Regions from separate parts of the Homo sapiens genome. Here all the other regions are linked to region 3. The links come from fine-mapping of genetic effects on gene expression. A gene starts in region 3. Each other region holds a variant in brackets. All regions are shown on one strand. Distances are between the middles of the regions. Region 1 overlaps EVC (EvC ciliary complex subunit 1). Region 2 overlaps EVC (EvC ciliary complex subunit 1). Region 3 holds the start of CRMP1 (collapsin response mediator protein 1).

Evidence for each region. PIP is the estimated chance that this variant, and not a neighbour inherited with it, causes the effect.
Region 1: its variant is the best candidate, but not a certain one, in a credible set for the expression of CRMP1 in liver (GTEx, PIP 0.71).
Region 2: its variant is the best candidate, but not a certain one, in a credible set for the expression of CRMP1 in fibroblasts (GTEx, PIP 0.55).

What each region holds. Positions count from the first base shown.
Region 1 is chr4:5,714,896-5,719,895 of GRCh38, reverse strand. EVC (EvC ciliary complex subunit 1) reads right to left here. Exons shown (of 21, transcript NM_153717.3): 2 at 523-648. Among named protein-coding and RNA genes, the nearest start is that of EVC, 6.2 kb to the right of the region's middle. RefSeq lists a silencer at 343-472. The variant C/T (reference allele first, on the strand shown) is at 2,349.
Region 2 is chr4:5,754,984-5,759,983 of GRCh38, reverse strand. EVC (EvC ciliary complex subunit 1) reads right to left here. Exons shown (of 21, transcript NM_153717.3): 11 at 3,622-3,720. Among named protein-coding and RNA genes, the nearest start is that of EVC, 46 kb to the right of the region's middle. RefSeq lists enhancers at 665-714, 383-1,582. The variant A/G (reference allele first, on the strand shown) is at 2,842.
Region 3 is chr4:5,890,564-5,895,909 of GRCh38, reverse strand. It overlaps CRMP1 (collapsin response mediator protein 1), which reads left to right and starts at 2,824. Exons shown (of 14, transcript NM_001014809.3): 1 at 2,824-3,321. The coding sequence starts at 2,941. RefSeq lists enhancers at 4,219-4,962, 4,963-5,346.

The DNA of each region.
Region 1 (5,000 bases), 180 kb after region 3:
TCTGCCAATGAAATACACACAAACAGTGAGCAATCAACAAAGTGTGGCACATCCACACAGTTGACTGCCACTGAGCAATAAAAATGGGTGAATTATTGATACACACAACGAAAGGGAAACATCTTAAGGCATTCTGTGGAGGGAACACAGGCACAGAACAGCACAATTCCATTTGCATAAGGTTCCAGAACTGCAGAACCAATCAATGGAAATCCCACGCATGGGCACCTCTGGAAGTGTGTGGGGGCGGGAAGTGACCAGAAAGGGGCACTAGAGGACTTGCTGGGTGATGAAAACATTCTCAGGGGGGTATTTGTTCTAAGGGGCATGCAATTGTCAAAACTCATCAAACTGTAAAACCTAAAGTCTGCGCATTTGACTGTATGTAAATTATGCCTCAGAAAAGCAGCCCATTGGGAAACTATATCTGTCAGAGGCTTGTCTACATGACACCCGGCTTCCAGGGGGAATACCCCACCTCCCACATGTGCCTCCACAAACAAACATCAACACCAAGCTTACATCAACAGCTTCCTTGTCCTTCGACATCTGCACTTCTCTCTTCCTCCTCCTTGATGGGGAGCCAGTTTCCGAGGGGGTCTGCGCATTAGACTCCAAATTCTTGAGCAGATTTTGAGTGTCGTCTTTCTAAAACCCGAAGGTCAGGAGTTGGGGGTGGATAGAAACACAACATTGAGGTCAGTCGGCCTGGTCCCCACCGTGACTTTTGCCAGTCAACTCCCCCAGTCCAGCAGCCACTTCTGCTCGCCTCTGTGCTTCTCAAGCTTGGTCTTCTGTGTGTGACGCCTCCCACCCCACGTGGGGTCCGCTACATGTCCTTCAAGACTGCACAGGTCACCTTCCTGAGCGGTTCCCCTAAGGCCTCCAGGATGCCCCATTTCAGTGCACCCTCAGGACTTGAGGCAAGAGGCAGAGCAAAGCTCGTTCCATTTTTCTTCTAGGTTGGGGACCCCATTGGACTGGGAGCTCTTTGGATTTAACAACTAAGCATGAGAAATGGCACATGCATATAATTTTCCTGTTGATCTTGATCATTCTATTGAATGGTTTTTAAGACAATATGTTAGGTGACCTTAAGTTATAGAGTAGTTTCTATTCTGAACTACAATGAATGCTCATTATTTATGGATTCTGTATTTGCCAATTCCTGTACTTGCTAATATTTATTTAGAACCCCCAAACCAATGCTCATGGCGCTTTTACAGTTATTCACAAATACATGCAGAGCATGAACAATCTGAGTTGCCCAGCATGCACGTGCTCAGTTGAGATGGAACAAAGTAGCACTCTGCCTTCTTGTCTCTGCTCTCATGCTGTAAACAAACATCCTTTTCATACTCTAGTAGCACAGTTTTTGCATTTCTGTGCTTTTTCTCGGTGACTTTACTGTTTAAAATAACCACCAAACACAGTGCAGAAGTGCTGTCTAGTCTCCCGAAACACAAGAAAACTATGACATGCCCTCTGGAGAAATGGGTGTGTTACAGAAGCTTCATTCAGGTGTGAGTTACAGAGCTGATGTCTGTGAGTCCAATGTTAATAAATTAAAAATATCTATTAAATAAGATATCTTTAAACAGAAACATACATAAAACTATGCTATGTATTGACTGGTTAATGGAAATGTTGTGACCAGAGGCTTGTAGGAACCTAACCCTGTTTTCCCCCCAGGAACAACGGTTCAGTGTTCGCTAATGCTGTGTTCTCAGTGAGTTTACAGAACATAACTACCATGAATAAGGAGAGTAGACTATATTTAAAACTCTGTTATCCCAGACACTTCTCAACTTCCCCTTTAATCACTACCTGCTCATGAATATAATCTTTGCACTAAAGAAACATCACCAGTTTGTCACTGAGTTAATCAGCTACTATTATCGAGCATCTGCTTTGTGTCAGGCCTTGTTCTAGGTACTGGGAATAGAGTAACGAACAAAATACACAGCCTCTGCTTTTGTGGCATTGACATTGCAGTGAGAGAAGAAAGAGGCAAACAAATGAAAAAATACATAGCAATTCAGGGACAATCATGTCCTAGAGTAACAGTGGAGGGTGGGGGAATGAAGGATGATGGGAGACAAAGTCTCTTGGACAAAGCGGCATTTGAGAAGGAACTTAAAAGAAGTGAGGCCATGAGCCATTGAGATATCTCAGGGAGGAGCATTCTAGAGACAGAATAGCAAGTGCAAAGGCCTTGGAGGCAGGCCCATGCTGGGCATAGAGAGAAACCTGTGTAGATGCAGCAGTCTGTCGTGGGTCTTGGGGTGGATGATGAAGCCAGAGATTTGGGGGGTTGTTTACCAACCATAGCAGACCAGTACAAGGGT[C/T]CTGCAAAGAAGAACCCAGTCAGATAGTCCTACAGTAAAGACATTGAGGAAAAAATATATATATCCCACAGAGGGAGCATCAGCATCACTTGAAAATGTCTAGAGGGTCACTAGCCATTTGAGGACAGACTCTAATATGAAAGATAAAATCCAAAACAAACAAAAGGAAAAAGCAAGCAGGGAACGCACTACACAGGGAAAAAAAACTTTAAACAAATAAACAACTAAAATATTATCAGAGAGATCAGAGAAGGTATTCCATTCATAAAATAAGGACAGGATAGAACATTCTCAGAACAAAAAAATGACTCTTCAAAATTGAAAATATGAAAAACTCAATACAAGTATAAAGTTGAGAAACATCTCTCCAAAGATAATGTAAAAAAGACAAAGAGAATCGAAGTGAGAGAGAAAGACTAAGATTGGAAGCCCAATTCAACCTAAAAAAGTGATAGGAGTTCTTGGAAGAAGAAAACGTATAAAAGGAAAAGAATCATCAAAGAAATCAAGAAAATGATTCTCGATCAAAAGGACGTTCCAAATGCCTGGCACCGTGGATGACAAATGACTTTCACCAACACCATCGTGGTGCAATTTCATTTACTAGGAGCAAAGGTAAAGGTTCTTTAAGATTCTACAGAGGAACAAAAGGAAAAGAGGTTTCGTGTAAGGTATCAAGGATCAGAATAGAATCAGTTTTCTCAACAGCAACCATGGAAATTATGAGATGAAGCAGAGTCCCCCCTTTTTAAGGGCCTGCAAATCCCTTGCCCTAAGCCTGGAAATAAAGGAAAATCCTGACTTTCTTCAAGGGAAATTATCAACAACTTGATAAGCAAGAAGGTAATAGTCGCCTAAAACAATAGCCAAGGAAGTTAGAGTCAGGAGATGTTTGGTTTCCCTGCAGAAACTAAAGATAACATCTTAACATATGTCCCTGAGTTGTTTTTCAGAAACCTGGACCCCCATCCAATGGATCCACTCTGAGGATCCATGGCTGAGGTCCTCAGCTGCCCCTTATCTGAGATCTGAACTCTGAGCACCATTCTTTGTTCTAAAGCTCTTCCTGGGGAGCCCAGAGGAAGTCATGACCAGGAGCCTGAGCTAAGGTTCTTTTCTGCCGAACCTACATTTTAAAACAAAGCTTCTCTTCCTTCACAAAATTGCAAATCAGAAAATCTTTGAATCTACCTCTGACCTGCAAGCCTCCACTTCAAGATGTCTGGCCCTTTTAGGCCAAAACCAGTTGTCACCTTCATGTATTGATTTACAATTTTGCCTGTAACTTCTGCTTTCCTGAAATTTACCTCTACCTTTAAAAACCTCACCTGGAAGTCATCAGGGCAGTCAGGATTTGAGCATGAGCTGCCTAGTCCTCCTGGCTTGGTGCACTGTGAATAAACACCTCCCTTTTTACCACTATAAAACCTCAGTGTCGCTATCTGGTCTTACTGTGCCAGGTGAGTGGAACCCAGTTTGGTTCTACAACAGCTAGAAGACAATGGAGGCCGGGTACAGTAGCTCACGCCTGTAATCCCAGCACTCTGGGAGGCCGAGGCAGGTGGATCACGAGCTCAGGAGTTCGAGACCAGACTGGCCAACATGGTGAAACCCCATCTCTACTAAAAATACAAAAATTAGCTGGGCATGGTGGCGCATGCCTGTAGTCCCAGCTACTCAGGAGGCTGAGGCAGAAGAATTGCTTGAACCCAGGAAGTGGAGGTTGCAGTGAGCCGAGATTGCACTACTGCACTCCAGCCTGGGTGACAGAGCAAGACTCTATCTCAAAAAAAAAAAAAAAAAAAAAGACAATGGAAAAATGCCTTCGAAATTCTGGAGGAAAATTATTCCCAATCTAATTATTCTTACCAAATTAAGTATAAAGATAGAAGAATATATTTTCAGACATAGAAGTTCTCAAAAGAGTTGCATCCATCCCTTTTTGAAAAAGCTACTGAAGGATGTGCTCCAGGCATGCAATGAAATTACCTAACAAAAGGGGAGTGCCAGGGAATCCCTGAAACAGGATTCAACCCAGAAGAGACGTGAGAAACTCCCAGCATGATGAGTAGCTGCTTCTCAAACTTTAAGAACATGTAAATCACCAGGAGGGCTTATTAAACACAGCTTGCTGGACTCATCCCTAGAGATTCTCCTTCAGTGAGTCTGGGGTAGAGCCCAAGAATATGCATTTCTATCAAGCTCCCCAAGATATTGATGCTGCTGGTCTGGTCCACACTTTAGAGAGCTGTCTAGAGAATAACCAGCTCAAACTAGAGCTTGTCAGAATGTTTCTGGGAGAGATATTTTTCTCAAGAAGATAAAATGGATCAAATATCTAATGCATTCAAATGTCTTGAACACAAACGCACATATGTGGGGGAGAGTTAAATGAATGATAAGTACACAGAATCTAAGCAAATGAAAAAACCAAGGCCAGATGTGGTGGCTCACACCTGTGATCTTGGCACTTTGGGAGGTGAAAGCAGGAAGACTGCTTGAGCCCAGGAGTTTGAGACCAGCCTGGGCAACATGGCAAAACTCTAACTCTACAGAAAATAGAAAAAAAAAAAAAATTAGCCAGGCATGGTGGTGCAAGCCTGTAGTCCCAGCTACTTGGGAGGCTGAGGCGGGAGGATCACCTGAGCCCAA
Region 2 (5,000 bases), 140 kb after region 3:
TTCCTGTCTTTGCTTCAAGTTGTCCCACCTTTCCTGACCGAACCAATGTACTTCTTACATGTACCGATTGATGTCTCCTGTCTCCCTAAAATGTATAAAACCACGCTGTGTCCGGACCCCCTTGGGCGCGTGTCGTCAGGACGCGCCCTCCTGAGGCTGTGTCCCAGGCTCGCGCAGCCTCAACCTTGGCAAAATAAACTTTCTAAATGAACTGAGACCCGTCTCAGATGTTCTGGGTTTACATTTATATACTGCTTGGCTTACCCTTTGCAGCAATCATTGATAGGGTTTTACTCAGGCTGTCAGCCTGGTTGTGTAATTGTGAGCAAGTGATCTAACCTGTACCTCAATTTCCTTAATCTTGATGACATTCTGATGCACAGCAAGGTTTGAGAACTGCTTTAGAGAGGATGGGTGAGAATCCAATAAGCTACCATAGGGGGTGAGGAGGAGAATGCTGCTGAAACCACCCCCGCCGCCCATAGCCTCTGGGCCACCTGGGCTCACCTCCGGCAGGGGAAATAAGTGGCCCGGCTGGGAATTTGAACCCCAGATGTCTGGCTCCAGAGCCTGGGCTTCACCATTATGCTCCACAGCCCACACGTAAGGCAGGATAGGTAGTCAAGGAAGTGACCATGTCCTTGGGATGCGGCGACCAAACCATCAACACAGTAAGCCTCAGCATTTACACTGTAGTCTGGCTCTTTCAAGCAGTTATCTGCAGTAGGCAACGTCTCCTGCAGTCGGCAGGTGCACTTTGATTTTATCTGTCCTCAGACTGACCCTCTGCGCCATTATAATAGTAAAAAACACACCTTTGGACGGAGACTTAAGATGCTAATGAGACATGTGACGTATGAACAAGTGTGTACAGCTACTGTGCCTGGGCACTCAGAGGACCCGCCCCCACCGCCCTCCACAACATGCTTACTAATAATGCTTCTTCCCACGCCCTTATGAATAATCACATAAGACTCCCCAGAAAGGGAGTTTCCCCGGTAAGTCAAGGCTGTCTCATCTGCTCTGAATCATCTCCCAGGGCATCCTGTCTATTCTGCACCTAACTTTCAGAACATTCTTTCTCCTTTGCAATAAATTGCTCTGTGCTGCATCCCCTTTACTGTGGTCTCTTGTTTACATACTTTTAAACTAAAAACACAAGAAGCGAGGTTTCACAACAGCCGTCAACACTGAGCAGCATGGTTGGGGTGAGCACATCAGCACTAACATTAGAAAGCCTTTATTTTAAATCTCACCTTCCCCGCTTGCTAGCTGTGTAAAACCTGGGCAAGATACATGGGCCAGCACAGACAGGTTATGTAACCAGCCAAGGTCACACAGCATGTTAGCACTCAGAGGAAGATTAGAACTTGGTTTCCCCATGCCCAGCCAGGGATGTGAGTCTTGACTCCTCTGGGGACAAAGTTGTTCCTTTCCTGTCTGTGGGCCCCAGGGCTTTGACAAATTGAGCCCCATCCTACCCATTTCTGGAGAAAACACTTCTTCACTCCTCATCTGGGAAGGAAGGAAAATGCAGTGTCTTCCTCATGAATCTCATGAGAATTAAATAATCAAATACTCAAGAGGCACTTAAGATAGGAGCTAGCCCTGAACAAAGATCGCCTTCCGTTTAGTTTCCTGTGGCTGCCATGACAAAGCGCCGCAAACTGGGTGCATTAAGACAACGAAGTTTATTCTCTCACCGTTCCGGAGGGCATTAGTATGAAACCAAGGTGTTGGCAGAGCCTCGCCCCCTCCAAAGGCTCTGGGAGGGGCCCTTCCTGGGCTCTTCTGGCTTTTGGTGGCTGCAGGTGTTCCTCGGCTTGTGGCTGCATCACTCCAGTCCCTCCTTCTGTCTTCAAACAGCCTCCTTCCCTGTGTCTCTATGTCTTCTCATGGCCTTCTTATAAGGACACCAGCCATTAGAATTAGGGCCCACCCGAATCCAGTAGGACCTAACCAACTGTGCGATCTAACCAATTACATCTGCAAAGCCCTTATTTCCAAGTGTGGCCACATTCCGAGGTTCCAGATGGACATGACGTTTTGAAGGACACTGTTTGGACTAAATTGTGTCTCCCTCCAAAATTCTTAGGTTGAAGCCCTAACCTCCAATATCCCATGTGACTGTATTTGGAGGTAATTAAGTAATCAAATTCTTATGTTGAAGCTCTAACCTCCAATATCCCATGTGGCTGTATTTGGAGACAGGGCCTTTAAGGAGGTAATTAAGGTTAGATGAGGTCATCAGGGTGGGGCCCTAATCCCATAGAACTGGTGTCCTTATAAGAAAAGGGAGAGACCAGAGCCCTCTCTTTCATTCTCTCCCCTGCCCTTCAGTCTTCCAAGCACAGAGAAATAACCGTGTGAGGAGGCAACGGGAAGGCAGCTGTCTGCAAGCCCGGAAGAGAGGCCTCACCAGAAGTCAATCCTGTTGGCACCGTGATCTCGGGCTTCAGCCTCCAGAACCTTGAGAGAACGCTTTTCTGTTGTTTAACCCACCAGTCAGTGGTATTCACCACGGCAGCCCTAGCAGGTTAACAGAGACATGACTGACCCCAGTGCAGCTCCCATCCGGGTGAGGAGTTGCACTTCCCACCACTGCATGAGCTTCTCCCTGATGGGGATGCCCGCTGACTCCTTGTCCACTTGGGCCTGGTCTCATCCAATGCTTGGCTCAGCAATGCCTCCTACAGGCTGCTGTCCTTGACGTCACCTTCACCCAGGAGCCCCTTGCCTCTCCTCTGCACTCAGAAGCAGGGAAGCTGTCACTGGAGACAACGTGCCCTGGGGTGTTCCGAGTGCCAGCTGCTGTCTCGGGTCCCCAAACACAGTCCTCCT[A/G]GCACACCATGAAGAAGAATTATGACTGTCCCCATTTCACAGATGGGGAAACTGAGGGCTAGAGGCCAAGTGATGCTCCTGTGGTCACGCAGTGAGGAAGCGGGGAGCCAGGACACAGACCCAGGCCCTCTCCTCCTCCCAGTGCTGCCCAACACCCACTGGTTGATTCCTTCATAGCCAGGTGTCCACACTCCTGTCTTTCCAACAACTGAGGATGCTGCCTGAGGCAGGGGCTCTGTCTGGCTCAGCATGGCATCCTGTGACTCCTGCCCCTAAAGAGGGCTCAGGTGCCCTCTCCTGCTCTCTGAAAGTCACCCTGCAGGGCAAGCATGGCCAGCTTCACCTCCCCACCCCAGACCTGCACACGGTTGCACAGGGGAAAGAGGTGGTGTGGCATGTGATCTCTGACGTCCCCATTTCAGCCCAGAACCCCTTCTTCATCACCACTTTACACTGATGACACCCAGAAACCCTGGGCCTATTTCTCACCTGGGGAGAACGGATTTCCAAAGAGCTTTGCTGACAGGGATGTGTGGAGATAAGAATCCTCAGCACCCCAAAAATGGACGGTGCCTCAGAGAGGACCAAGGCCAACTGCCTCGGTTTCTGATGTGGGCAAGGAGGATCGCATGGAGGGGACACAGCCTGCGTGGATCACCGGCCAATGAGTGCGGGGTTGGACCTGAACCACCTCTGGGGTCCCCAGCCAGGAGGATGTGAGGTTCTCGCACACACACAGACCCTGGGGCTTCTCTGCTGGTCCCCACAGAGGCCATGTACCTGGCAGAGTGCAACCACAGCCTCGGTGGCTCTGACATTCTCCTCTTCCTCCAGGTCACACTGCATCAGCCTCTGCCTCTCCAGGACCTCATGAAAAGCCTGTGAGGAAAACAAGAGCTGAGTCTGGTAGAAACATGCAGGGTTTTTTTTTTTTTTTCCAGAAGGTTCTCCAACCATCCCCTGCATCTCAGGTTAGAAAGAAGGATGTTGGCACCTGTATTACACACAAGGAAACTGAGGCATGGGGCTGTCACATGGCTTTCACAGCTGATGCCAGGGTCAGCAAATCCGATTTCCAGGAAACACCACAAACCACCACGCTTTTGTTAAAGCCAGGATGAGGAGGGGCCACTGGACCACTTCTGTCACTCCTCTGTCCTGGCTGCAGCCACCCAGACATCACTTTCTGACCACCCAGGCCATGGAAGACCCACTGATGGGAACCCAGCAGGGGTGACACAGACTGGCGATTGGAGGTCAGTGCAGTCAGCAACCAGCCAGGCCCCACTGTGACCACGGGGTGGAGGCCCTTCCCTGAGGACCCCAGCAGAGCAGCAGGAGACTGGGCTAACCCGGGCATCAGCAGGGGGAGACCCAGCCAGCCCTAAACAGAGCATCAGCGAGGGGCGAGGTGGGGCAGAAGGACAGAGGAACAGACCCTTCTCAGGGAAGGGTTGCAGGAGAAAATTCCCTGTTGGGGAGATGTTTCAATGGAGTCTCTAAGGACAAGGAAGGACTCCTTGGAGGGAAGATGGGGAGCCAGGCTCAGCGAGCAGCAGCAGAGACCAGGAGGTAAACCCCCTAAGATCTTTGGTGATGCTACGGGCAGGAGGTGAGATGAGAGAGAAGGGCGGGACTGGAAAAAGGTGGGTGCTGAGTGTGTACTGGGAGCCTGGTGTCGTTCGTTCATTCTCCCACCCATTCCATCCTCCTTCATTCGCTCGTTTGCCCATTTGTCCATGTCCTGGTTCATTCAGGCACGCATGCGCTCATTCACCCTTCCCTGCCTGCGTCCCACGTGTCCTGAACGCCAGCGCTGAGGCGTTCCGAGGACTGTACCGAGGCCCTGGGACACCAAGGTCACCCAGGCACTGTCTCCACACTCTGGACTCACACTGGGCTCTGTGACATCAAGGACAGGGGCCCAGAAATATCCAAATAACGAGGAGCTGAATAGCCTTATCTTCCTCTTATTTCAAATGGGTCTCAAAGATAGAAAAACCTACCCTACCCCTTTGTGGCAAATGCAGAAGCTCCAAGTATGGGCCTGGAAGAGGCCCCCTGGGTGAGGGAGGCAGCTGGACCAGGGACCTAGAGGCCTGTCCTCTGTTCTCGGGGGACCCCTCCATTGGCTTCTCACTGCAGTGGTGCCACCACCA
Region 3 (5,346 bases):
CCAAGACTGCATGCAAAACAGGATTCTAACTCAACCACCTAGACTCTTCTGCCTAAACTAGGTCCCTTTATCTCTTATCTCCCAGTGGGACCACCTCAGTCAGGCTCTTGGGGAGAGGAAAGGGTAGTTGTTTCGATGTGGACTCTGGCACCAGACTACTCTGTTTAAACCTCGAAGTCTTACTTGCCAGCTGTGACCCTGGACAGGTTATTTATGTCTCTGAACCTCAGTTTTCTCATCTGTAAAATGAGGCTAAAATGGCAGTTTCAAGGTTGCTGCGAGGCATAAAAGAGTTACTATCTGTTAGGTGCTTACCATGGTCCGGGCACGTAGTAAACTTTCTATAAGCAGAAGCTATGAAGATCCTTTCCTGCTTCTGCATAAAGACAGCACTTTCTCAGCTCCTTCCTTGCGTCACTCCCTCTAGTCTTGGCAACTGCCCAGCCCTTTCTCACAATGGAAAGGGTTTTCTTTAGAAGCAGTAAGATTTCCATCACCACCAACAAAGCCTGAGAGACTGTGTCCTCAAGATGTTGAGAGCAGATTCAAGCATGCAGTAGGAGGCCTGGCCTCCAAAGTTCCACCTAACTCAGACTTTTGAGTTTTCTGATATTTCTCTGGGTTATGTCACCCTGAACATTTGTGGGGTTTTAGAAGAAATTTCTATGTGGTTTTCGACATGAATTGTTCTTGCCTGGAATGGGCTGGGAATAGTATTTCACAGGACAGAGAAAAATTTTCATTGAAAAATCGAAAACACTTGCAAGATAGCCTGGAGGCTGATGGGCCTCAAGAGGAGTGTCTGTGGCAAATCTGCACAGTGGACCCAGGGACACAAGGAGAGAGGAGCCAGGATGCAGCTGCGGTGGGTGGAAGGTAGATGGAGGCTGTGTGTGGAACTTTCTGTTCTCGCATTCAGCACTCTCTCCCCCATGAGAGTAAACACTTGTTGAAGACAGAGACTTAGAAATACTCATCTGTGTCCCCACACTAGCCTCTCTCTCAAGCACAGAAAAATAACTTGCTAAATGCCCACCGAGTGGATGAGCCCACGCTCTAGGCCTGGCTGAACCTCCTTGAGATTGAGGCCCTGAGGGAGCCATTTCACATCTCCCCTCCTGTTTCCTCTTCCAAGAGGGGGCCGGTAAAAATACCTACCTGCTGCACAGACCCCTTGTTGCAGGGTTGAAAGACAGTAGCTTCAGGGAGGTGTCAGCTGAGGCCACGGATCCGACGGCCCCAGGATCCTCAGTCCATGGGGCCCAAGAGTCATAAAACAAGAACATGAATCCATCTGTCTGTCTGGTATTCCTGGAGCTTGGTCACGCTGCGGGAGCTCTGGCTTGCAGCTGGCAGGGCCCGGGGTTGAAGGGACAGCTCCCAGCATGGAAGGCTATGGGTGGGGGGACATTGCAAGAAGCACTGATGCTCCCCTCTGCAGTCCCCACCCAGTCCTGACTTTGCTTGTCTAGACTGGCTCGAGGAGGGGGTCGGCAGCTGGCGATTCTGCCTCTCCAGGAAGTGCAGCTGGGACTGTAGGGTCCCCAGGGACTTGCAGGATCCTCTGCCTGATAATCGTGGAGAAATAAGGGAAGGTGTCTATAGGAGGCAGGTGGTGCCTGGCCTTAGAGGAGAGCCCCAGCAGAGCGACCTCCACGACAGAGAAACCCCAGAACGCCCAGACTGCAAGCTCCAGGAGCAACAAAAGTGGACTGTGCCCCTCGAATGAGGGAATATCTGTCTGTCTGGTTGACTGCCAGCTGTGTGTGTGTGGTCATCTCTGTCTCTGTGTGTCTTTCTCTGGAGCGTTTTTATTTAAGCTTTTGACTTCCTTTATTACTGGTGTGGACTTGTGTGTGGGCATCCTGTTGCCAGTTTATGATGCACATGTGTGGAATCGCCCTGAGCTTGCCTTTGATATTGGTGTGTTGTGTGGTGTCATTGGCGTGCACGTGTATGTGTGTGTCGCTGATTCTCATGCAAGAATGTGCTTCTCTTATGTGTCTGTCGGAGTGTGCCTCTAGCATGTCCCTCTTGGCTGCTGCACCACCTTTCCTGGCCCTTACCACCTCTTGGCCCACCATATGGGTGCTTTTGTATCCAATTCCCCTCCTTAGCAGGTCAGCTCCTGGAGGGCAGGCACTTGGTCTCTTTTGTCCATGGCTCTGTTCCCAGCTCCTACAACAGTGCTAGGCACTAGTGGGCGCTCAGCAAAATAAAACTGACGGAATGAACGGTGTGTCCAACGCATGTGCCTCTCCAGTTGTGCAATTAATCTTGGTGTGATACTGTGTGTGAGTGGGGTTGTGAGACAATGAGGATTTCTGTTGTGTGTTTGTAATGAACTCGGAATGTGCACAAGCATATATGTGTATGTGTGTGCAACATTGAGTATGGTGTGCATGATCGAGCCCCTGTGTATCTCTGGAGAGCATGTGTGATTGACTCTCGTGTGTGTGCCAGCATGTCTGTGCATCTCTCATGTGTTTGGCGTAATTGTCTGGTGTGCAGGTATGAACCCGCGTGTGCCTCCAGAGCGTGTGGGCGCGCGAGTGTACGCACACGGCTCCTGCCCCGCGCTCTCCTCGCGCCCTGCGCTCCGCCTGGGGGCGGAGAGTGGGGGGTGCGGCGAGGGCACTGCGGTGCCGCGGCCCGCCCTCCGCGCTGCGGCTCGGGAGCGTCACCGTCCCTCCCCGCCCCAGCCGCGATCCCCGCCTCCTGGTCCTTTGTAGCTGGCCGCGCCGCTAGCCCGCAGCCGCCCAGAGGCCCCGCCCCGGCCCCGCCCCGGCGCGCGCCACGCCCCGCCCCTCCCCTCCCTGGGCCGCAGTCGCGCCCGGGCCGCCGCAGGCCCGCACCGAGGCGCGGAGCGCGGCGCACGGCGGTGCCCAGGGCCGCGGGCGGGCAGGCGGGAGCGCGGTGGGTGGCCGGCCTTGGACGGGTATGGCGGACCGGCGGCGCGCGTGGAACACCGAGGACGACCTGCCCGTGTACCTGGCGCGGCCGGGCAGCGCGGCGCAGACCCCGCGCCAGAAGTACGGCGGCATGTTCGCCGCGGTGGAGGGCGCCTACGAGAACAAGACCATCGACTTCGACGCCTACAGTGTGGGCCGCCGCGGCTCGGCGCGCACGCCGCGCAGCGCTGGCCGGCCCGACGCGGTCGGGCTGCCAGGGCCGGGAGGCAGCGAGGACACGGCCAGCGACGTGAGCGAGCCCTCGGGCTCCGCGGTCAGCTCTCCCGGAGAGCGCGACGAGCGGCCGCCGACGCTGCGCATCCGCCGCCCCGCGCCCCGCGACCTGCCCCTCGGCCGGGACAATGGCCAGGTACCCTCGGGGCGCGCGCGGGCCAGACGAGGGGGGCGGGCCCCGGGAGGACCCAGGGCATGGGGCGCCCGAGGGCCATGCCCGGGCCCCGGTGTTGGGGCAGCGGCCGCCAGGCTGGGGAGAGCCACGGCGCGGCCCCTCCCCCACCTCATCATGCAAGAGGTTCCCAGAGCTGGGGCGACTCGGTCGGGGCTGGCCGGCGTGGTCCGTGAGACTCGGAAGGGATCGCCCGGGTCCAGTCCCGGCTCCTCTTCTACAGAAAGGGAGAGAGGTTCTGAGAGGGGAAGTTGGCTAAAGCTACCGCATGGACGCTTAAACGCGAAGGAACCTCTGGGATGAATCTAACCCAGGCCCCTCATTCTGTTTTGTGAAAAGAACTGGAGCTCCGTTCCGTGTTGGTCCATTCATCCATCCACTCAGTCGGTAGTAATTATAGAGCACCTACTGTGTGCCGGGCCCCGGGAGAGGTTCCGCGAGTCGCCTGCGGCCACACAGCTTAAAGCTGGAAGGAGCTTTTTTTCCGAGCGCTCCCCTCATGCTTGCTGGGGGGAAGGATTTGGTTAAGGATTTAGTTCGTCGGGCAGTTGGAGCCGTAAACCCCTACCCTCAAGCGCCAGTAGATTCAAGGGGCACTCCTGAGCTCCACAGCACACACCGATGTGCCTGCTTCACAGAGCAAGGTGGAGGTAGAGCTGGGATTTGAACTGGGGTCTCTGGCCTCCCGGACCTGAGCATGGGGCCGGGAGGATCAGGGAGAGGGAACGCTAGGGCTTGGGCCCTGCGGGTATTCTCTCTTGAGCTGGGGGTCACCAGGAAACTGGGGGAAGAAGGGCGGATGGACGGCGTAGCCTTTGGATGGACCGACGAGAGCCAGGGTCAGGTGCCAGAAAAACGGAAGTTGGAGCATCCGAGGGCTGGGGAGCTTTCGAATTGGTCCAGACCTGGATGCCGGAGAACTGCTAGGTGCCAGGCCCAGGGTAGGCGCTAGGTCCCTGGCTCAGCAACCTGGCCCCACCCTCCAGAAGTTCCCAGGCTAGGGTGAGCGACGGATTCATTGTGAGAATTAAATCAGTTAATGCCGGTCGGTAGTGAGCATTCAATAAATGTTTGTTGTTGACTTTTATTACAATCATTATCATTTTAATTAAACCTTCCCCTCTTAAATGCTATGAGTGACCCAAAGTGAGCCTGGAGGGAAGCAGAGCTTGATCGGGGCAGATATCTGGGAGGGCTTCCTGGAGGAATAGGAGCAGGGAACTGGTAAACACGGTGGTGGGCCTCTTCGGGCCCCATCCCTTCGCGGGCGGGCTGTTGCTCCAGAGCTCTCCGTGGTCCTGAAGCCGGAGCCTCGCGAGGGAGAGGTCCAACAGCAAGGGTGTGTGTGTGTGTGTGTGTGTGTGTGTGTGTGTGTGTATGTGTGTGTGGTGGTGGGGTGATCAGAAAGGGAGATGGTGCGAGAGTCCAGCTTCCTCTTCCCCCACCCCTTCTGTATCTCCCCCTGTCCACTACCTTCCCTGGTGGTCCGACCTCTCTTGGGATCCAAACTCCCGAGCCCGATGGGGAGGCTTCTGGGCCGCGGGCCGAGAAGCGGGACCAGCACCAGGGAATCCGGGTTTCCAGCCAAGGCGCTTTGCTCTCTTGGGCCTCAGCTTCTCCATCTGTCAGATGGGGGTGGCCGTCTTCTTCCGGCCTTCCTCAAAGCGTGGTGGAGTACTAGGGAGGCGAGGGCGCTTTGTGCACGGCCCGTAGCTGTCCCAAGGAGAGTTCCTCTGGAACTGCGGTCAATGTCACCAACGCCAGCATCTCCCCCAGGGCGCAGCCTGGGCCAGCCCCGCAGCTGCGCCCTGACCCTTGGGGACGCTGGTCGCTTCACCTCTCCCGTTCCTCTCCCCTACTCCTTCCTCTTCTCCCTGTGGTCCCCTCTGCCTTTCTCCATGGCTTCTCAGGCACCGGACAAAAGGCAGCGCCTCTGGCGCTCCCGGGGCTCCGAAAGCACTCGAGCTTCGCGACTGTGGAACTCAGGGG